Homo sapiens: one gene and its partners. The protein of the gene in region 1 purifies or fractionates together with the protein of each later gene. This does not show direct contact. Each region holds a gene or a part of one and is shown in the gene's direction. Other genes may lie near its edges.

Region 1 (7,685 bases):
TCATGATCTTCCTGTCCAAATTGCGCCTCCTGCAACCTTTCTCATCTAAATGAGTGGCAATTTGGTCTTCTAGTTGGTCAGGCCAAACACCCAGAAACCATCCTGAGCTTTTTTTTTTTTTTTGAGACAGGTTCTCACTCTGTTGCCCAGGCTGGAGTGAAAGTAGCACAATCATGGCTCACTAAAGCCCTGAACTTTCAACCTCCCGAGGCTCAAGCAATCCTCTGACCTCAGCCTCCCGAGTAGCTGGGACTACAGGATGTGCCACCACACCCAGCTAATTTTTGTATTTTTTATAGAGACGAGGTTTTGCTATGTTGCCCAGACTGGTCTCAAACTCCTGGACTCAAGCAGTCATCCCGCATTGGCCTCCCAAAGTGTAATCCAAAGGGATTACAGGCGTGAGCCACTGTGCCTGGCCCATCCCAAGCTTTTCTCTCTCTCTCATATTTTATATCCAATCTATTGGCAAATCCTGTTGACTCTACCTTCAAAATATATTCAGGATCTGACCATTTCTTAGCCATTGCTACTGCCCTGGTTTAAACCATCATCATCTCTCACCTGAGTCATTGCCATCACCTCCTAACTGGTCTCCTAGCTTCTGACCTTGCCCTCCTGTACTCTTCTCATCATAGCAGCCAGCATGCTCCTCCTAAAGCATGCCAGCGTGTGCCATTCTTTTTTTTTTGAGACAGAGTCTTGCACTTGTTGCCCAGGTCGGAGTGCAATGGCACAATCTCGGCTCATTGCAACCTTCGCCTCCCAGGTTCAAGCGATTCTCCTGCCTCAGCCTCCCTAGTAGCTGGCATTACAGGCGCCCGCCACCACACCCAGCTAATTTTTTTGTATTTTTAGTAGATATGGGGTTTCACCATTTTGGTCAGGCTGGTCTGACCACTCAATTTAAAATTTCATTCTCCAGCCACTCAATTTAAAATTACATTCAGGCTGCCAAGACTTTGTCCTCTATGCCCTGGGGTCTCTGGACCTTCCAGGTAGGAGCCGAGAACCCTTGGTTGGTCCCTCTAACTTGCATTTCTCCCCATCCCTCAAGCAATTCTTATCCCCCTTCCCTGCTTGGGGCTTCACCATGGCATATATTACCATCTGATGTACAGTGTATTTTATTTTATTTATTTTGTTTGTTGTTATCATCTGTTTCTTGCCACTGGACCATAAGCTCTGTGAGGGGGGATTCTTATCTTCTTAGTTCATCATTATGTTCTCAGCACTTGGCATATAGGCACATAATAAATATGAATGAATGAATGGATTCCTAGTACTTCTTGCTTCTCTTTCTATCATAGTCATCATGATTATGATGCAGTACCTAGTGTGTCTCTACCTCTAGAATGAAACAAAGAAAGCTGTGTTTTTGTCTTGCTCACCTTATATACCCAGCACTTAGAAGGTTCTCCAAATTATATCTACTGCATGAATGAAGGTTTCTGAGATGCTAATCTGACCATCTTCACCCGTTTCTGCCCTTAAAGCTTACTGCCCTCAGTATCGAACCTGAATCTTCTTAGCATGTCATAATCACTTTCCCTTTGTCTCATGTCTTGACACTTTTCTCCCCCTTCCACATCCTCTAAGATGCAGCCTTTCCTGAATATGCCATGCTCTTTCACTCCCAGGCCTTTGTACTCACTGTTCTCTTCTTGGAAAGCTCCACCTGACTAACTCCTACTTGTCCTTTAGGGCTCAGCTGAGGTCACATTTTCTGGGAAGCTTTCCAGACCCTTAAGGCGAGCTTGTGTCAGTGGGGGTGGGTACAGAACCCATCTCCAGCTTAGTCCTGCCCAGGCTTCTGCTGACATCTGATTGTTGTGTGTTGGCCAGAGAGGTTGAAGATTAGCTCAGAGAGAATGTTGATGTTGTAGAATGTAGAGTAATGAGAATAGCAGTGGGTGAAATGGAGGTTGAGGCAACTAAAAGCCAGTGTGGGCTCTGGGCTGTCAAGACATTGTCCTCTATGCTCTGAGGTCTCTGGACCTTCCAGGCAGGAGCCAAGAACCCTTGGTTGGTTCCTCTGACTTGCATTTTTCCTCCTTCCTCTCTCTCAGGGGGGGATGTTACCATCACTGACCTGCCCCTGGCCCTAGAACAGATCCAGGGCAACGTCCAGGCCAATGTGCCAGCTGGAGGCCAGGCCCAGGTGCGTGCCTTGTCCTGGGGGATTGACCATCATGTCTTCCCTGCAAACTATGACCTGGTGCTGGGGGCTGATATCGTGTACCTGGAACCCACCTTCCCTCTGCTGCTGGGGACCCTCCAACACCTGTGCAGGCCCCATGGCACCATCTATCTGGCCTCCAAGATGAGAAAGGAGCATGGGACAGAGAGCTTCTTTCAGCACCTCCTGCCCCAGCATTTCCAACTGGAGCTGGCTCAGCGGGATGAGGATGAAAATGTCAACATCTATAGGGCCAGGCACAGGGAACCAAGACCTGCTTGACATCACCCTTGCTGTTCTTCTCAATCTCTTGCTCTAATGAAGGAACTGTGTATCTCAAAAACCATATTTCCAGAGCCACAAACATGAGGACCAAAAAGGATGGATTTCCCTGGCCTCTCTCACTTTCCTCCTTCCCTCTTTGTTACCCCAGATACTCTTGGGCAGGTGCAGTGAGGTGCCTGCTTACAAGGAATCCCAGAGTTCTGGCAGCACTAGTGTTAGAACACCAAGGAGGTTCCTGGCTCCTGTTCTCAGAGAAGGAGGATGGTAAGGTATCCAGGATTTTTAGGGGGTAAGGGAGATATATGGGATGTGAGAGCAGTGATTGTAGACAGACTGTCACTGATCACTTCCATTCCTGTTGCTGTTTACACAGAATGGACTTTAAAAAAATTCTGTGGGATTTTTTTTTCTTTTTTTCTTTTTTTTTGAGACAGGGTCTCACTCTGTCATCCAGGCTGGAGTGCAGTGGTGTGATCACAGCTCACTGCAGCCTCAACCTCTGAAGGCCCAGATGATCTTCCTGCCTCAGCTCCCCAAGTAGCTGGGACTAGAGGCATGCGCCACCACACCCGGCTAATTTTTGTATTTTCAGTAGAGACAGGGTTTCGCCATGTTGCCCAGGGTGGTCTCAAACTCCTGGGCTCAAGTGATCCACCCGCCTTGCCTCCCAAAGTGCTGGGATTGCAGGCATGGCCCACTGTGCTAGCCTAGGATTTTTTTTTTTTTTTAAGAAAGAATTAAGCCTTAAAAATCTATTGTGCAAGAACCCAACTTTTACTCAGGAGCTGAGAAGGAAGAAGCCTCAAACCACCCATTTCCTGCTTTTTAGAGATAGAGTCTAGTGGAACCATGGCTCTAACTGGGTCAAGTCCTCCTAGCTCTGAAGCTAAGGCTGCAGAGCTGTCCTTTGGACTGTATTTCTTCATGCTTTCCAGAGTTAGAGCCTTGATCACGGAACATCATTGTGTGCAGAAGAATACTGTACCTAGTACTAAGTTCTTTTCATCTTTGATTTTTCTTTAGCTTCATCAGTCCTTCCTTCCTAATCTCTAATCCCCTGAAGCCTAACACAGTTCCTAATGTGTTTTGCCTTAACCTCTTTTCTCTTCCCACATTGGTACTTCTGGTTGGGGCTCTCTTTACTTACTGCTTAGGCACATAGTCACCTTCTCTGGACTCCCTGCTTCCATGCTTTCTCCTTCAGTCCATTCCGCAAACTCTTGTGATCTTCCAAAATTAGCTCTGATTAGCTTTCACTTCCTGTAGAAGCAAGAACAAGCTCCTCTGCTTGGTACTTAGTCTGTGTCCATGTGATCCAAAATTACCTTCCTATTGCATTTCCTACTCCTTTGCTACGTGTATTGGACCTCTGGCCAAATTACAAAAGATGTACTCTTTGTTCTCTAAAACCACACTAAAGTTTTCTGACTTCTTTCACACTCTTTATGATAATCCTCTGCCTGAAAGGCTATTGCCACCTGTCAAAATCTTCATTATTCTTTGCCTCTTTCCTGAGCCTCTTGCTTGAATGTGATTTCTTTCTCCCTGAGACCCATAAGGTTCATCTTATGGGACCTTAATTTGTCTTGCATGGACATTTGTGATTCTCATTTTCTCACCATTAAATTACCTTGGAGGGTAGGGCTGTGGTTTACTCCTGTCTAAACCCCTGAAGCCTAACACAGTTCCTGGCACACAACAGGTGTTCAACAGATATTGTGCTCATTCAATAAATATTTACTCGCTTTGTTTAATGGATTCCACCCCTGCCTTCCTAGGTGACCTTGGACAAATTCTCGAACCCATTCACCAACCACACAAGTTTGTTGTGAGTCATAAATGGATAATGAATATAAATGCGCATTGAAAATAAACATAAAATGTTACCCACATTTCTTGTGTTGTTGTTTTGTGACGACTTTATTTCTTGGTTTCTGTTATTTTACCTGGGGTGGGAGGTGGGGGGTAATTCCCGTATGAAATGTGTCGTCTCAAGAAATCAAGTAGAGGCGAGGACTGTGTTCCTCCGGCCAGCAGGTGGCACCATACTCGTTTGGTGCGTTCCGCTGGAGAATTCTGGCCCTTCCGCCGCGCCGTAGGTTTGTTGCCTCACCAGTGCGCCCGCCGGAGGGTGTTTATCGCGGCTAGAGAGATGTCGCTGCTGCGGTCGCTGCGCGTGTTTCTGGTCGCGCGGACCGGGAGCTACCCGGTGAGAAGTCCTGGTGCTGGTACCGACCTGCTGTCCCTGCAGCTCTCCTGTGCGCCTGTACCTTTCCCTTCCTCCCAACCTCGTTTGACTCCATCTCACCTTCCCCGACAGCATTGCCTCTGCCCAGTCCAGCCCCGGTGCACCCCCCTTTGCACACTGTCCGCTCCCTAAGGTCGCTTCCCTGCCCGTGTACCCTTCACCCTCTGGAGTTTGCTGCTTCCTGCTCCTCATCCCTTTCTTATCTCATCTAGGCTGGGTCTCTTCTGCGTCAGTCGCCCCAGCCAAGGCACACATTTTATGCTGGGCCCCGTCTGTCTGCCTCGGCCTCCAGCAAGGAGCTCCTCATGAAGCTGCGGCGGAAAACAGGCTACTCCTTTGTAAATTGCAAGAAAGCTCTGGAGACTTGTGGCGGGGACCTCAAACAGGTGTGTGTGTGGAGGGGTGCAGGGCGGAGTACTAGAGCTCGACCTCAGACTCTTGGGGCGGTCACGCTGGGGAGCATAAAGTTAGACTGCTCTTCAGTGACCATAATGGCACAGTCCTAAGTGGAAATCTGGCTTAAATGACAACCTTGGCCTTGACTTTGTCTTATTTGAAAGCAGTTGAGTATCCCAGGATTAACAAACCAGACTGTTACGGTGTTTCTTGTTGCCTGGAGCTGAAAGGGTTTGTGTGAGCTTTGGAGTCAGATTGTTCAGGAGTCAAATTGTGGGGCCCCCACACTGTCTGACTTTAGACTTTTTTTTTTTTTTTCAGACGGAGTCTTGCTCTGTGGCCCAGGCCGGCGTGCAATGGCACGATGTTGGCTCACTGCAACCTCCGCCTCCCGGGTTCAAGCGATTCTCCTGCCTCAGCCTCCTGAGTAGTTGGGATTACAGGCGTGCGCCACGACACCCGGCTATTTTATTTTTTATTTTTTATTTTTTTTTGTATTTTTAGTAGAGATGGGGTTTCGCCGTGTCGGCCAGGCTGGTCTCGAACTCCTGGCCTCAGGTGATCCGCCCGCCTCGGCTTCCCAGAGTGGTGGGATTACAGGAGTGAGCCACCGCGCCCGGCTGACTTTAGACATCTTAATCTTTCAGAGTTGTGTAGTTTTTGCCTGTACGGTCATGCGTCTCTTAATAGGAAGATACATTCTGAGAAATGGCGTCGTTAGGAGATTTTGGCTTATGCACATCATAGAGTACCTACACAAACCTAGATGGTATATTGTACTACAACCTGGGCTATATGGAATTGCCAGCTGCTCCTAGGCTACAAACCGTTACAAAATGTTACTGGACTGAATACTGTAGGCAGTTGTAACACAGTGGTAAGTATTGTGTATCTAAACATAGAAAAAGTACAGTAAATAGGCATAAAAGATAAAAAACGATACATCTCCATAGGGAACTTATCATGTATGGAGCTTGCAGGACTGGAAGTTGCTCTGGGTGAGTCAGTGAGTGGTGAGTGAATATGAAGGCCTGCCTTAGGACACTATGGTGCACTATAGTAGACGTTAAAGCACAGTACACATAAGCTACATTACATTTATAAGAAATTTTTTTCTGTGATAATAAGTTAACCTTAGTTTAATGTAACATTTTTATTTTATAAACTTTTAACATGTTTTAAATTTTTGGACTCTTTTGTAATAACAGCATAAAACACATATTGTACAGCTGTACCAAAATATTTTTCTTTATGCACTTTTTCTGTGAGCTTTTTTCTGTTTTTAAAATTTTAAACTTTTTTTGGCTGGGCGTGGTGGCTCATGCCTGTAATCTCAGAACTTTGGGAGGCTGAGGCAAGCGGATCACCTGAGGTTGCGAGTTCGAGACTAGCCTGACCCACACGGAGAAACCTCGTCTCTACTAAAAAAAAATAAAATTAGCCTGGTGTGGTGGCAAGGGCCTGTAATCCCAGCTACTCGGGAGGCTGAGGTAGGATAATCTCTTGAACCCAAAAGGCGGAGGTTGTGGTGAGCCGAGATCGTGCCATTGCACTCCAGCCTGGGCAATAAGAGTGAAACTCTGTCTCAAAAAAAAAAACAACAACTTTTTTTATTGAAATATCTTTTTTTTTTTTTTTTTTTTTTTTTTTTGAGACAGAGTCTTACTCTGTCCCCCAGGCTGGACTGCAGTGGCACAATCTTGGCTCACTGCAAGCTCCACCTCCCAGGTTCACACCATTCTCCTGCCTCAGCCTCCTGAGTAGCTGGGACTACAGGCGCCCGCCACCACGCCCGGCTAATTTTTTGTATTTTTAGTAGAGACAGGGTTTCACCGTGTTAGCCAGGATGGTCTCGATCTCCTGACCTTGTGATCCGCCCACCTCAGCCTCCCAAAGTGTCGGGATTACAGGCGTGAGCCACAGCGCCTGGCCAAAACTTTTTTTAAGTTAAAAAATTGTTTTGTTAAAAACGGAGACACAAACACATACATTAGCCTAGGCCTACACAGGAGTGGCATCATCATTAACACTGTGTTCCACTTTCACATCTTGTCCTGCTGGAAGGTCTTCAGGGGCAGTAACGGGCATGGACCTGTCATCTCCTATGATAACAATGTTTTTTTCTGGAATACCTCTTGAAGGACCTGCCTGAAGCTGTTTTACTGTTAAATTTTTTTATTTTTTATTTTTTTGAGACGGAGTCTCACTTTGTCACCCAGGCTGGAGTGCAGTGGCGCGATAGATCTTGGTTCACTGCAACCTCCGCCTCCCGGGTTCAAGAAATTCAGCCACCCGAGTAGTTTATAAGTTGGAGTACACTCTAAAATAACAATAAAGCATATGTATTATAGTAAATACATAAGCCAGTAACATAGTTGTTCATTATTGTTTCAAGTATCATGTACTATATGTAATTGTATGTGCTATACTTTAATAGGACTGGCAGCACAGACGTTTTCTTTACACTAGCATTGCCACAAACATGTAGGTAATATGTTGCCCTACAATGTTAGGAGGACTACCGTGTCACTAGACAATAGGAATTTTTCAGCTCCATTATAATCTTAGGGACCGTCA
Region 2 (6,441 bases), on another chromosome or scaffold:
TACAATCTAATTTATGGAAACTCAGATTCTCTCATGTGAGTCTATGGACATGGTTAGGTTGGGGAAGGAAGTGGTGATACCACTCACCTTGATTATTCTTTCCACCTCCTGGTGACAGAAAGAAGACATGGGCCCCTCAGCAAGCTTTATGGCCGGGCCCCACCCCCACCTCCAGCCCCTGCCAGCTCTCAGAAATGCCATGTAGTGAATGGGCAGGGCCCAGCTTGTAGGGCCCCAGGTTCCACGAAAACCTCCTCCAGGGAGAAGGGCCAGGGGTCCCGGAGCCGTGGCCACCAGCCTCCTGAGAAGACCCAGAAGGACAACCTCTGGTAAGGAGAGGCTGGAAACTTTCTAAGACTGGCCCTGACCCTGACCCATGGATGGGCTGACATCAATACAGACAGCCCTGGGTCAAGGCATACTCCTCACAGCAGGAGGCAGCCGTCCTGTCTGCAGCTTCCTTCCATATATTCCAGGGAAGATGGGGTCTCCTCTTCCCGTGTTTCACACCCCTGCTGGAGCCCACCCAAATTCCAGGGCTGGGAAAGAGATGGCTCTGGGCTAGAGTCCAGGCCCCAGGCCTCGCCTCCCCTCCCCTCCCTCAGCCAACCCCCTCTCTCTGTGTGTAGCCTTTTCGTGCCTGTGGTGAATCTGGAGAAGATGTCCAGTCTCCCGAAGCCTGATGGACATGGAATCAGGGTGGCCCCACCCTCTGCTTTTCTCAGCCAGCCAGGGGGCCTCACCAAGGACTCCCCTGGAAAACCTCCCATGGCTCCCCCTTCTAAAGAACCTCCTGGCAGAGAGAACATCGAGATCATCCCCAGTGAGGGGTCCAGTCACTGGGCTGAAGGCAGCCCTCCTGAAAAGGAGCCCAGTGGGACCAGGCTGCCCCCTAAAACCCACCGGAAGATGGCTCGTGAGTAGTTGTGGTCTTGGGGGTCCAGAATGTAGAGTGGGGACTCCTTTGGGCTGCTTTGTCCTTGGGCTGGATGAGGAGGAGGTCAGGTTTATGGGCCTGGCCATCACAGGTTGTAGGGTATAGGAGCCCCGTCACCTCTTGACCTGCTTGCTTCCTGGGAAGCTTCTCTCCATCCTGTGTCTCCTGATCAAGGCTGAGGGAGCCCATGCCCAGGAGGTGAAGTTCTTTCTCACTCTTTTCTCACCTAGATCCAGGGCGCCAGCCAGACACATCTCACAGCTGGCTTCTCTGGCCTCCCAGATGCCCATGGCTGCTTTTGTTTCTTGATGTGTGTTGCCCTGCTTTGGGCTTGAAGTCCCAAAAGGCGCACCTGAAATTGGGATAGGGATGGTTCTCACACCCAGCAAGGAGATGTTGATGCCCAGAAGTTTATCTGGAAGGTACAGCCCCAGGCTGAGGGCTGGAGTCTCTTCTGCCTTAGTACCAGTTCTCAGGCCCTTGGCAGGAAGCGGCCAAATCCTCCTGTAAACTCCTGGAAATGGTCTTGAGGTTCATTGGAAGTGCTTTCCCCACAGGGAAGGAGTGCGACCTCAACAGGCAGTGTGGGGTAATAAATCCAGAGACCAAAAAGATCTGTACCCGCCTGTTGACCTGCAAGGTAACCCCCTTCCCACTGCACGGTGAGGGAGGACAGCACAGGGCTTGCCCACTCCTTCCCTGGGCAAAGAGAGGAATGTCGATGTTACTGAAGGTCCAGCTTAAGGGAGGGCAGTTAGGCCCACCCAAGGGAAGGGGAGATGGGTATGCCCCTCCTGGGCAGAAGGTGGGAACAGTGGGAAGGAGGGAGTTTCCAGATTCCCCCATCCCAAAGGAGGGTTTTGGCCCCATGGGGGAATGAAACAAAGACACATGAACACAGCTGCAAATATGCCCACCTCTCTCCCTGCCCCCCAACTTGCCCGGGCCAAAGCACCCTGCCGTCCCTCACCCCTTCTCAGTTCATACCTACTCCCCAGCTCTCCACTCTGCTGTATTCTAGATCCACTCAGTACACCAGCGCCGGGAAGTCCAGGGCCGGGCCAAGGACTTTGACGTGCTGGTGGCAGAGCTGAAGGCCAACTCCCGCAAAGGGGAGTCTCCCAAGGAGAAGAGCCCAGGGCGCAAGGAGCAAGTTCTCGAGCGCCCCTCCCAGGAGCTCCCCTCCTCAGTCCAGGTTGTAGCAGCGGTGGCTGCTCCCAGCAGCACCTTCTCTGTTCGTGCCAAGCAGACCTACCCATACTGTGCACTGCCCAGGTACGTCTAGAATCCAACCCCTACCTCACCTGGGGGTACTTGGCCCCTAAGCCATCAGGGGCCCCTGGAAACAGGCTCAGGGAGTGTCCTGGAAGAGGCACTCCCTCAGCCCTGAGTGTGGGGGTATTCCTGGGGCTCCTGACAGTGGTGTGGAAGCAGGAGACTCCCCTGTTTCCAACCAGGCATACCACAGCACCCCAGCCTCTCGGCAGTGTGCCAGATCCAACACTCAGGATATGAACATTTTCCCAGCTGCCTCCAACAGACCGAAACTTGTCACTGGGGAGCTGAAAGGGTCACACTCCTGGGCAAGGCAGCCCTATGTGTATTCACTCACTGGCCCCTTCGCGTGCAGAGGCTATGCCGGACCCCAGGGAGAGCCTGACTTGCTGAAGGAGACACACATGCATCTCTGCCTGTCACACAAGGGGCAGACACGAAACACAGGCTCAGCTCACAGACAGGCTCACAGGAATATGTGATGCAAGAAGGGGGTTGAGCGAGTTGACTGGGCTGACCAGAGCTGGGTACAGTTTTAACTGTGAAGATTTTCTGGAGGAGGCGGATCTGCAGCAGATTATCCCCTGAGGAGGAAGGGGCTGGGAGGTGAAGGGGCTGGGGAGAGAATCCCTTGGGAGCAGTCTCTCTGTCTCTTACTCTGTGAGCTGTGTCGTTCCCTCCTGTCCTTCCCTTCCCTCTGTCCTCTTCTGATTGCCCTGCAGGGTGTCTGCCCTGGTGCCCTGCTCTTTGAGCTCGGCAGGTTCAAGGATGCCCCTACTCTGACCCCACAACAGTCACATTCCCCTGGCATCCCTTTTGGCCCTTCCAGGTCCCGGGCCTCCTCCGAGAGTGAATTGGATGATGAAGGCCCCTGTGGTGGTGATGGGGACCCAGGCCTGTTCCCCTTCCCCATGCCCCGGGGTGGGACCCAGGCCTCCAGCGAAGAGAGTGAGGAGGAGGGGACATCTGACGACCTCCACCCACCCCCTGACTGCCATTATGCAACCCGGCCCCCACGGCCACAGGCGGTAAGGACCTGGAATAGGGGCCTATGGAGGGGGTGGCCCAGCACTCCTGGCCAACAACATGGGGAGGAGGCCAGATCCTGTGTGCAGATGCTGTCTGTGCACCCCAGACCCTGCCAACCATGCACCTTCCTTCTGCCTTTAGTTCTGCACCTTTGGGAGCCGGCTGGTGAGCCCAGGATGCTATGTGTTTAGCCGCCGGCTGGACCGGTTCTGCTCAGCACTCAGCTCCATGCTGGAACGGCACCTCAGCACACACATGTGGAAGTAAGTCTCTCGGACCCAGAATGGAAGTTCTAGAATGGAAATTCCTAGGTTCCAGACATACTTGGGCTTCAGAAGCCCTGATCTTTCCTGTATACCCATAGGTGTGCCTTGGCTATTTGCCAGCAGGACCCCAGATAGGGAGTAGCATGAAAAGGAGGTGGGAAAACTTGGCAGCCTAGAGTTTGGCTAAGGCAGGGCATGGAAGGGTGGTCTGGGGGTGAATCTAGACTTTCATCCATCACTTCCAGTACCTTTTGGGTAACTAGGGATAGGGGATGCCCAAACCAAGATTTAAAATGAAGTTCCTAGTGGGCTGCCTCCTAGTTAGTAGGTACTAGCTAATTCCTCTCCACAGGCACCCCTGTGTCTTCTTCCTAACCCTCAGTTCCAGCATCTCCCAGCAGATGGCAGCAACTCTGGGGCTCTGCTGACCATTTCTAGGTGGGGCAGAGAGACTGGAGTGTGTCTTGTGTTGGGGGAAGCTGTCTTGTTTCTTGGCAGTCACAGTGGGGCTTTCTTTTTGCTGCAGGAAGATCCCACCGGCAGCTGAACCTCCAGCTCACCTTGTCAACTCCCCGTTATCTGCTCCCCTGAGCCCATCCTCTACAGGCACCTGCCCCCGCCTTCCAGGTCCAACCCTGAGACCTGCCTGCCCAGCCTCCATGCCCCCCACCAAGGACAACCTTGTCCCCAGCTACCCTGCAGGCTCCCCCAGCGTGGCGGCTGCCTGTAGCCAGGCAGAGTGCATGGGCGGGAGCCAGGCTATCACCTCACCACTGCCTGCCAACACGCCATCCCCGTCCTTCAGCAAGCTGCCGCCTTCCAAGGCCAGCAAGTCATCCAAAGGCAAGGACGGGGTGGAGGTGGAGGCCCCTTCTCGAAAGCGGAAGTTATCCCCTGGCCCTACCACTCTTAAACGGACCTGCATCCTGGAGCCCACTGGAAAAGGGAAACCCTCTGGCTGTAGGGGCCTCTCGGCCAAAACTAAAACAGCCCTGAGCATGGGGCTTAATGGGACAATGGGGCCAAGAGTGAAGCGGGCAGGGCCCCTGGACTGTCGTGGCTCCCCTCATCAGCTCCCCACACCAGTCAAGGCTTCTCAGCTGGAGAACCGGGGAGCAGCTGGACACCCAGCCAAGGCCCTGCCAACCAACTGCCTCTCTGAGGAGGAGGTGGCCAAGAAGCGGAAAAACCTGGCCACTTATTGCCGGCCAGTGAAGGCCAAGCACTGTCAGGCTGGTGCCCCTGCTGATGTGGCCTGCTCTGTGCGCCGCAAGAAGCCAGGCCCGGCCCTGGCCTTTGAGGAGAAGTGCTCTACACTGAAGGTACCAGCCAGGCTCCCTGAAGATTGATGAGGGTGGGGCACACAGGGGGTACCTGATACAGAGAAGATGCTACATTGGTGTTTGTGCAGGGAAAGGGAGGAAGGGGAAGTTGAGAGAGTTCCTGGACTGTTTTCTTTAGGAAGAGGTAGGTCAGTTCTTAGCAAAGTGACTCCAGCTTTTTGCCTGGTGAACCTTCCCCTATCCCTAACCCTTTCCCTTGGGCTGAGGAGATGCGGCACCCCTCCACCCCTGCTTTTGCTATAATCAAAGGGCTACTTCTTTCTGAATTGGCTGTGACCCTCATTCCAGGTACTGGAGCTACCTCTGTTCCCTGAAGGAAAGGGAGTTTGAGTCCCTGGGTCACAGCCTAACATGCCGAGCAGCAAGGTGGGTGGGCTGGTCTCACTGGTTTTTCCTCTGGGCATCAGGGCCTTGAAGGGCAGGCACACAACCCCATGTCCACTTATGCACATGTGCCCACCTCCAGGTGTGCAGGTGACAGGCAAGTTCTCCAGGGTTTCCAGTAAAGCCTGCAGCCAGTTTTATTTGCCTCTTCTGGTGGGAGCCCTGGTGTAGTGTGCTATGTGCTCTCCATATGATCTCTGCCAGGAGGGACTTACTGGAGGTGGGACGGGGGTGCTCTCCTGGGTTAGATGTGGGCCTAATCATAAACCCTGTGTGTTCTCCAGCTTCACTACCCAGGCTGCCCCTGGTGAGCTGGCATTCATCTTCCCCCTTGCTCAGTTTTACTCACCAGGCCAGCAGAAGGAAATCAAGCTTTAGCCTCTGTAGTGCACACAGTTCACTGGGTAGGACAGCTGGTAGGCCCCCACCCTGACCCTTTCTCTCGCCTCTTGTCTTCCTGCAGTCAAAAGCCCATTAACGAGAAAGTGCCTGCCCACTGCAACGGAGCCGCCAGCACCTCCTCCCCTCCAGATCCGGGCCCCAGGCTGCTGCCGCTTTTTATAACTTTATATTATTTTTTTTTAAGAAAAAAAGCTCTTTAAAATACCTCAAGACTGTCTCCCTGTTCTGTTGCTGCTATGAAAATATAAAAACAGAAACATAGAAAAGGAAGGAAAAAAAATAACAAAATGAGTGTCCTTACTGTCCCCAGCCCTACCCTGGGAGGCTGAGATGATAGGCAGCCAGACTCCAGCTCCCATAGCTTGCCTGCAAAAGTCTCTTATGCTCATTATTATTATTATTGTCATCTTGTCATTTTCAATAGTGTGAAAAATGTTTGTGTCACTGGGGTAGTCTTTCCAGACAGGATGATGAGGCGTGTGGCTCTGAATGAGTAAGGCTTCCTGAGTCTTGACACCAGAGACGACTATGGTCCCATTGGGAAGAGAAACTCGAGAGGGGGAGCTGCACTTCTGGCTCTTTCTAGGATCCTTGCCCCGAGGGTCTGGGAATTGGCTTGTGACCCTTTTCTGGTCCTTCAGCAACCCTAGGCATCCATCCCTCCCTGAATTATTGCCTGCTTTTCTTCAGCTGTTCCTGCAGCCTCATTTTCTCAGCCACTTAGGGAGCTTGAGCTGGGTTGGTCATTGCTGTTGGGATATTCCTGTTTTCTATTGGACAGCCTTCCTTCCCTGCCTGTGGGTTT
Region 3 (6,406 bases), on another chromosome or scaffold:
TTAGAAAATTCACGGCAGATTCAATTAAAAATGCAATTTCTGTAGGATAAAGACTGAGTCATTTCCTTAAAACAGTGTTCTTTAACCTCCTCTTCTTCACATACAGCATATCTAATTCTTTATCACAACAGGTTTTATGGAGGTACACAGAATGTAGGATACTGATAATAGTTATGTCTTTATTTTCTTTGGAAAATGAAATGAGTTAATATTTATCAAAAAAAGTCAGTCAGATAGTAAATATCGTATTCCTGTGAGCTGTTATTATTATCATTGATGTACAAGACTAAAAATTAGGTAAGTATTCTCACAGGACAACAGGTAACTTTGACATTATGTTTCTTTCAATATTGTAGTGTATACTTTATCAAAAAAAGAATATAAGAATATTACCGATGAAGATAATAAGAATAAGAAAACGATTTTGAGCGTTTCATATAACAAATAGGACCAGGCGTGGTGGCTCTTGCATGTAACTCAGCACTTTGGGAGGCTGAGGCAGGAGAATTCCTTGAGGCCTGGAGTTTGGGACCATCCTGGACGATATAGCAAGACCCTGTCTCTAAAGAACAAAGCACAACAAGTCTAAAATAACTCAGAAATAGCTGAAAGCTAATTTTTATATAATATAAACTTATCGGTTAAAATGCTTTAAAGTCCTTATGCAAAATGTTTTTTTTTCCTAAATTTCTTCTAGGTAATTGATCTGGGTGGTGAGCCAATTAAAAGCAGTGACTACTTTGGTAATGGCCGGGTGACAGAATTCAAGTATGGTGCAAAACTCGGCACAGTTATTCGCAAGTGGAATGGAGAGAAGATGTCTTACTTAAAGTAAATAAATACAACTTTTCCCCTGAACTATTTCATAGATCTGTTAGTCATACTACCCCAGTGCGAGTTATCTTCTGGAACATTCTTATTCAGACAACTATTAAGGAGTCAGTTGTTAATGATAAGTATTCTAGTGCCCTAAACTCTAATCAATCATCTTTTGTATTTAGAGTGTCTGTCACAAGACAGTATGCCTAGGAACGCTAAACTTACCCTAGGAGTTTCTGTCTGCGTACAAGATGAATATACTGGATTTGACTGATGTTTGCATATAATCTTTTAAAGCCAGGTTATTATTAAAATGATCCTATCATTTATAAAGTATGTACAAAGTGTCCATGCTATTGTATTTACTTATACGAATTGGAAATGTAAAATGATTTATATTATAACAATACAATATTAAAGCCTTATTTTAATCTAGTTTGACATTCTGTATAATGTGATGTGGATATTGATCCTTCTGGAGTGCCTCTAAATGATAATGTGCTGAAACCTCTGAAAGGAAATTTTTTAATAACAAACATTTTATATTTGTAATATGAATATAAGTATTCCATACATGTATATACAAATATGGACTATATATATGTAGATTACACACGTGTGTTTGTTTATGAGGTGTGTGTGTATATATATGTGAGTGTGTGTTTGTGTGTGTGTGTGTATATATATATATCTTACAGAGTAACCATCTAATTAGAGAAAGAATTTAATCTTCAGATGCCATGCCTTACAGAAAGAGATGCACAGTAGAGTTACTCTCAAACTATTGTGAAATGATACATCAACGTATATCTTATGTTTCAAAAATAGGAACTGGGGAGAAGGTTGGGGTTTCATGCCTTCTGACAGAGCGCTTGTCTTTGTGGATAACCATGACAATCAACGAGGACATGGCGCTGGAGGAGCCTCTATACTTACCTTCTGGGATGCTAGGTAGAAAACCAAGTTCTCTATTTTTTAACACCTCTTTTAATGATGGTATGAATATTGTGATATTCTATGATAATATAATTATGTAACTTTCAGGCTGTACAAAATGGCAGTTGGATTTATGCTTGCTCATCCTTATGGATTTACACGAGTAATGTCAAGCTACCGTTGGCCAAGATATTTTGAAAATGGAAAAGTAAGTTTTGGAGTTGTTCAAAATATCCTTTTCTCAAGAAAAAAGAGGCAATCTTCTCCTAATTTAATATGACAACTATTAAGTGTTTATTTATTCAACAAATATTTAATTATTGTAAACCTGATACAGGGTTGTGATTTAGTAATGCAGGTTATATTAAAGGAATAAACTTTATATTCTCCATTGAAAAAGAATAGCAAGCTTTTTCAGAGATATGACAAACATCCCCCTAGCCCGCAGGGAAAATAAAAATAAAAATTAAAAAAACCACTTAAAAATAAGAGCTAGGCACAGGGATTAAAATATATACTTCGTACCTTCCTCAGGTTTAATTGGAAGAATATAGATGCCAACCCTTGTAGAGAACTTAAAACATCATCTGCCCGTAGTGAGAACAATATAAATGTCTTTTAAATACTGTTAAAAAGTTATATGGTATAGAAACAAATGATCCAGTTCAGCTGAGTTAAATAGGGAAAGTATACTATAAGAGGAAGGAAATTGTATGTACTAAAGGATAGAAATTTATAGAGAGTATTCCAAGAAAGGTAAGAATGAGAAAAATATTTGGGAGTATGGTAAAGACATCACTCTGCTGAGTAGTTTCAAAAAGGAACAGAGAAATAAGAGTGTAAAGATATTTGGAAAGCTAGTAGAAGGTTTTCTTTTAAACTAAAGGGTTGAGAAACAGCATCAGAGACTTCAGAACTAAAGCAGAAATTCCTCCTTCCTATGAGTCACACAGATATCTAGCTAGCTTTTTTTAGATTCCTTTCAGTTTGAGAAGTCCGCTACTATGTATAACAACTGATTCTATTGTTAAACAGCTTTAATATTTAGAAGGTGTACTTTTATATTGAGACAACTTCTTATAATTTCTACTAATTGGTCTTATTTCTGTTGTTAGGAGTCAGAGAGTTCTTTTATTTTTTCTATTACTATAACATTCCCACTTTGACAGGACTGCTGCATGCTATAAACTCTTAAGTTTTGTTCACTTTTCACCATATGACGTGATTTTAAGGTGAACACTGATAAACTTCCTAGGGTTACTCTGTGTTTTTTAATGAAGATTTCTTAAAGTGCCAATCAGAAAAGCATAATACTAAAAATATGGTCAATTTATAAAAAAAAATGTTCAGATGTAGTATTTTGTACATTTATCTAAAAAGAAGCATGACGGCCTCCAATATTTATTTAGCATATGTCATGTTCAAGGCATTTTCACATATATTACTTAATTTTTATAGCAAAAGAACTCATTATTCTCATTTTACAAATGAGGAAACTGAGACACAGAGAAATTATTTATATTGATTAAATTTTCTCAGCTACTAGTAATAGAGCCTATGTTTTAATCCTGGTGTTTCTAGTACTAATGCCCTTCCCATTTCAATGCCATTGCATGGCTTACAGTGATGTTAAGAAGCCCTTGCAGGCCAGGTGCAGTGGCTCACACCTATAATCCCAGCACTGTGTGCGGCCAGCTGAGAAGGTCAGCTGACCTGAGGAGTTCAAGACCTATCTGGGCAAGCTAGCAAGACCTTGCCTCTACTGAAAATTAAAAAAAAAAAAAAAATTAGCTGGGTGCGGTGGTGCACACCAACAGTCTTAGCTACTTGGGAGGCTGAGATGGGAGGTTCGCTTGAGCCTCGGAGATCAAGGCTGCAGTGAGCTACGATCATGCCACTGTACTCCAGCCTGGGTGACAGAGCAAAGAAGTCTTTGCAGTGCCTTGGAATGAAAAGGAGAGGATAACAATTTGCTACCTTTGTTTGAAATATGGCAAAAGAGAACCAGAGGATAGAGAGATGATGAAGACCCAGTAAAGGGCTATAAAAATCAATGAAGGCATTGGATTCTAGATAAAGTCACTGAATGCAGAGACACAAGTAACAGGATAGGTTGGGTTTGGTTTAAAGGAGAAGGAAGAGATAAATATATATATGCTAAAATTTGGCTTTTCCTCCTGTAATTAAGGATGTTAATGATTGGGTTGGGCCACCAAATGATAATGGAGTAACTAAAGAAGTTACTATTAATCCAGACACTACTTGTGGCAATGACTGGGTCTGTGAACATCGATGGCGCCAAATAAGGTGAGAATATGTATTTAGACATGTCCTCTAATAGTAAATTTCCGTAGCACTTTATTTAAAACAGTTGAAGTTTAAGAATATCAACGTTTTATATGGTATTGTGTTTTTAGGAACATGGTTAATTTCCGCAATGTAGTGGATGGCCAGCCTTTTACAAACTGGTATGATAATGGGAGCAACCAAGTGGCTTTTGGGAGAGGAAACAGAGGATTCATTGTTTTCAACAATGATGACTGGTAAGTAAATATCAATTAAAAATAATATTTTGTACCAGTATGTTCTTGGTTTATTCTTTTTTTTTTCTGTTCATTGACATTTATCATATCTGAAAAATCATGTAGTCAGTGGAGCGAGAAGACAATAGAGATCAAAATTGGGTAGAAGCAAAAGGATGATGGCTGTTACTCCTTCGTTCTCCTGTTTTCATAAGGGCTTTCTGTTGTAAGCAGAATCCTTTCTGTGCACCCTTGCAATATCTTATGCATATATAGAATGCACATTCATATGCTTACCTACACATGCCACAAAATACACAAAGTAATTAATAGAAGGATTGTGAAATCATTAAAAGAACGTTTCTTATAGTCCTGCTCTTTTAATCATGGAAAAATGCTGCCTCAGTACTAAAATATCTTTATTTCTCTTTTTCTCAATGACAGCTCTACCTAGTTTTTTGGTATACTTTCTTCACTTCTCTGTCTCCTTGTGACAAATAACATTTTTAAAGCATATGGATAAATAATATGTATCTTGTGGTTAATGATTTGCTTCAGGAGACTTGAGTTTTAGTTCTGAAACTTCTCATTATTGGCCTTTCATCTGTGATTTTTGTATCCTTTGGCTGTAGTATAAATGATTCCCGAAACTGTAGCTGAGAAGACCTCCTTGCAAACAGTTGAATTGTCTCTGTCCAAGGCCAACTGACACTCATACTTAGCTCACTCTAGTATAAATTATACTTCACTTATGAAAAATAAATAAATACAAAAATATATAAGTCAAGTTGATCTCTTTCCTGCCAAAAAAATGCGTGTCTATTTCCTTAGTTTCCTTCTTTTGTGGATGAAAATACCAAAAAAATCTTTTGTGAAAAAGCTTTATATTTCAAACTATCACTTCCTCATACAAATGCTAGATTGTTTTTATGTACACCCTAAATTCTTTTTGACCTCATGTAGAATAAAAGAAGGTTAAAAAAATAATACCCTTTAAATTTTTAAAGTAATTGGCATTAAGTTCAGTTGAGAAAAAATTTGATTTTACCAAGGTAGCACTTTATCAAAATGTGACCGCTCCCGCCAATCTTCGGTGATATTCTTCAACTTTGATTTTTCGGTTATATTTTCACTACTGAAAAGGAAATTGGTAGGTTTTCTGTAAGGTTACTTTTGGTCCTAGAAAGCTGTTTACACCTACTAGGGAGGCATATGGGTTTTCTTCTTAATGAGACTTCACTGCTTAGGGTTCTAAAACATAAAGTTATGCTGTTTATTTGTGTTAGTCTGTATTCTTGATTTCATTGTTTTGAAGTTAAATCTGAAATTTTATTTTACAGGACATTTTCTTTAACTTTGCAAACTGGTCTTCCTGCTGGCACATACTGTGATGTCATTTCTGGAGATAAAATTAATGGCAACTGCACAGGCATTAAAATCTACGTTTCTGATGATGGCAAAGCTCATTTTTCTATTAGTAACTCTGCTGAAGATCCATTTATTGCAATTCATGCTGAATCTAAATTGTAAAATTTAAAATTAAATGCAAATCCGCAAAGCAATAGCTAAGTGTGTTTCTTTTCTTACATATACAGTAATAGTTACATATCATTAATTTTAAATAAAAGCTCTAATTAGTAAAAAGAGGTTTAAGACACTTGATAGTATGAAATACAATTCCAGGTTACACATAAGTTATTTATTTTGGCAAAAGGATGACTCAAAAATTTTAAAACTAGGCAACAATCTTTACTCATTAAGAGGTAAGACTTAGCTTTCCAAACAGTTTGTCTCCTGTCTACTCTTTTCTCTCCTTGGCATTCTACCAACAAGGCAAACCAAATATTTCATTATTCTTCTCTATTACATGAAAAATCTGTACAAGGGAAGGAAAGCCAAATTTTACCCTTACATAGGTTTCAAAAGAATCCTTTTTCCATAGGCAACATTTACATTTTTATGCCTTTTTATAATCTTTTACCACAAACACATTTAAGTGTTCCTACACACCTTGCATGTAAATTTATTTTTAGTTGTCTTATTTACATATTTTTATGGTCAATCTTAGCAATTTTTAACTTTAATGTAAACCTGGTAAGTTGTTTTAATTATGTACTAGATGCAGATAA

Evidence for each region.
Region 2: the proteins of TSFM (region 1) and ATXN7L2 purify together in Homo sapiens (affinity purification with mass spectrometry; 2 studies listed by BioGRID and IntAct, with this or other methods). This does not show direct contact.
Region 3: the proteins of TSFM (region 1) and AMY1C purify together in Homo sapiens (affinity purification with mass spectrometry, with the first as the bait; 2 studies listed by BioGRID). This does not show direct contact.

What each region holds. Positions count from the first base shown.
Region 1 is NC_000012.12:57,778,186-57,785,870, forward strand, and holds the start of TSFM (elongation factor Ts, mitochondrial isoform 2 precursor), read left to right. Parts: upstream 1-4,601; 5' UTR 4,602-4,616; coding exon 4,617-4,673; intron 4,674-4,924; coding exon 4,925-5,098; intron 5,099-7,685. Other genes in the region: EEF1AKMT3 (EEF1A lysine methyltransferase 3), read left to right, coding at 2,070-2,461. UniProt on the Homo sapiens protein: Associates with the EF-Tu.GDP complex and induces the exchange of GDP to GTP. It remains bound to the aminoacyl-tRNA.EF-Tu.GTP complex up to the GTP hydrolysis stage on the ribosome.
Region 2 is NC_000001.11:109,486,889-109,493,329, forward strand, and holds the end of ATXN7L2 (ataxin-7-like protein 2), read left to right. Parts: intron 1-118; coding exon 119-329; intron 330-629; coding exon 630-916; intron 917-1,494; coding exon 1,495-1,577; intron 1,578-1,958; coding exon 1,959-2,212; intron 2,213-2,394; coding exon of another isoform or gene 2,395-2,452; exon of another isoform or gene 2,453-3,041; coding exon 3,042-3,240; intron 3,241-3,382; coding exon 3,383-3,504; intron 3,505-4,033; coding exon 4,034-4,829; intron 4,830-5,138; coding exon of another isoform or gene 5,139-5,180; exon of another isoform or gene 5,181-5,216; intron 5,217-5,697; coding exon 5,698-5,712; 3' UTR 5,713-5,846; downstream 5,847-6,441.
Region 3 is NC_000001.11:103,752,852-103,759,257, forward strand, and holds the end of AMY1C (alpha-amylase 1C precursor), read left to right. Parts: intron 1-697; coding exon 698-831; intron 832-1,647; coding exon 1,648-1,770; intron 1,771-1,863; coding exon 1,864-1,963; intron 1,964-3,943; coding exon 3,944-4,062; intron 4,063-4,172; coding exon 4,173-4,298; intron 4,299-5,617; coding exon 5,618-5,807; 3' UTR 5,808-5,841; downstream 5,842-6,406. UniProt on the Homo sapiens protein: Calcium-binding enzyme that initiates starch digestion in the oral cavity.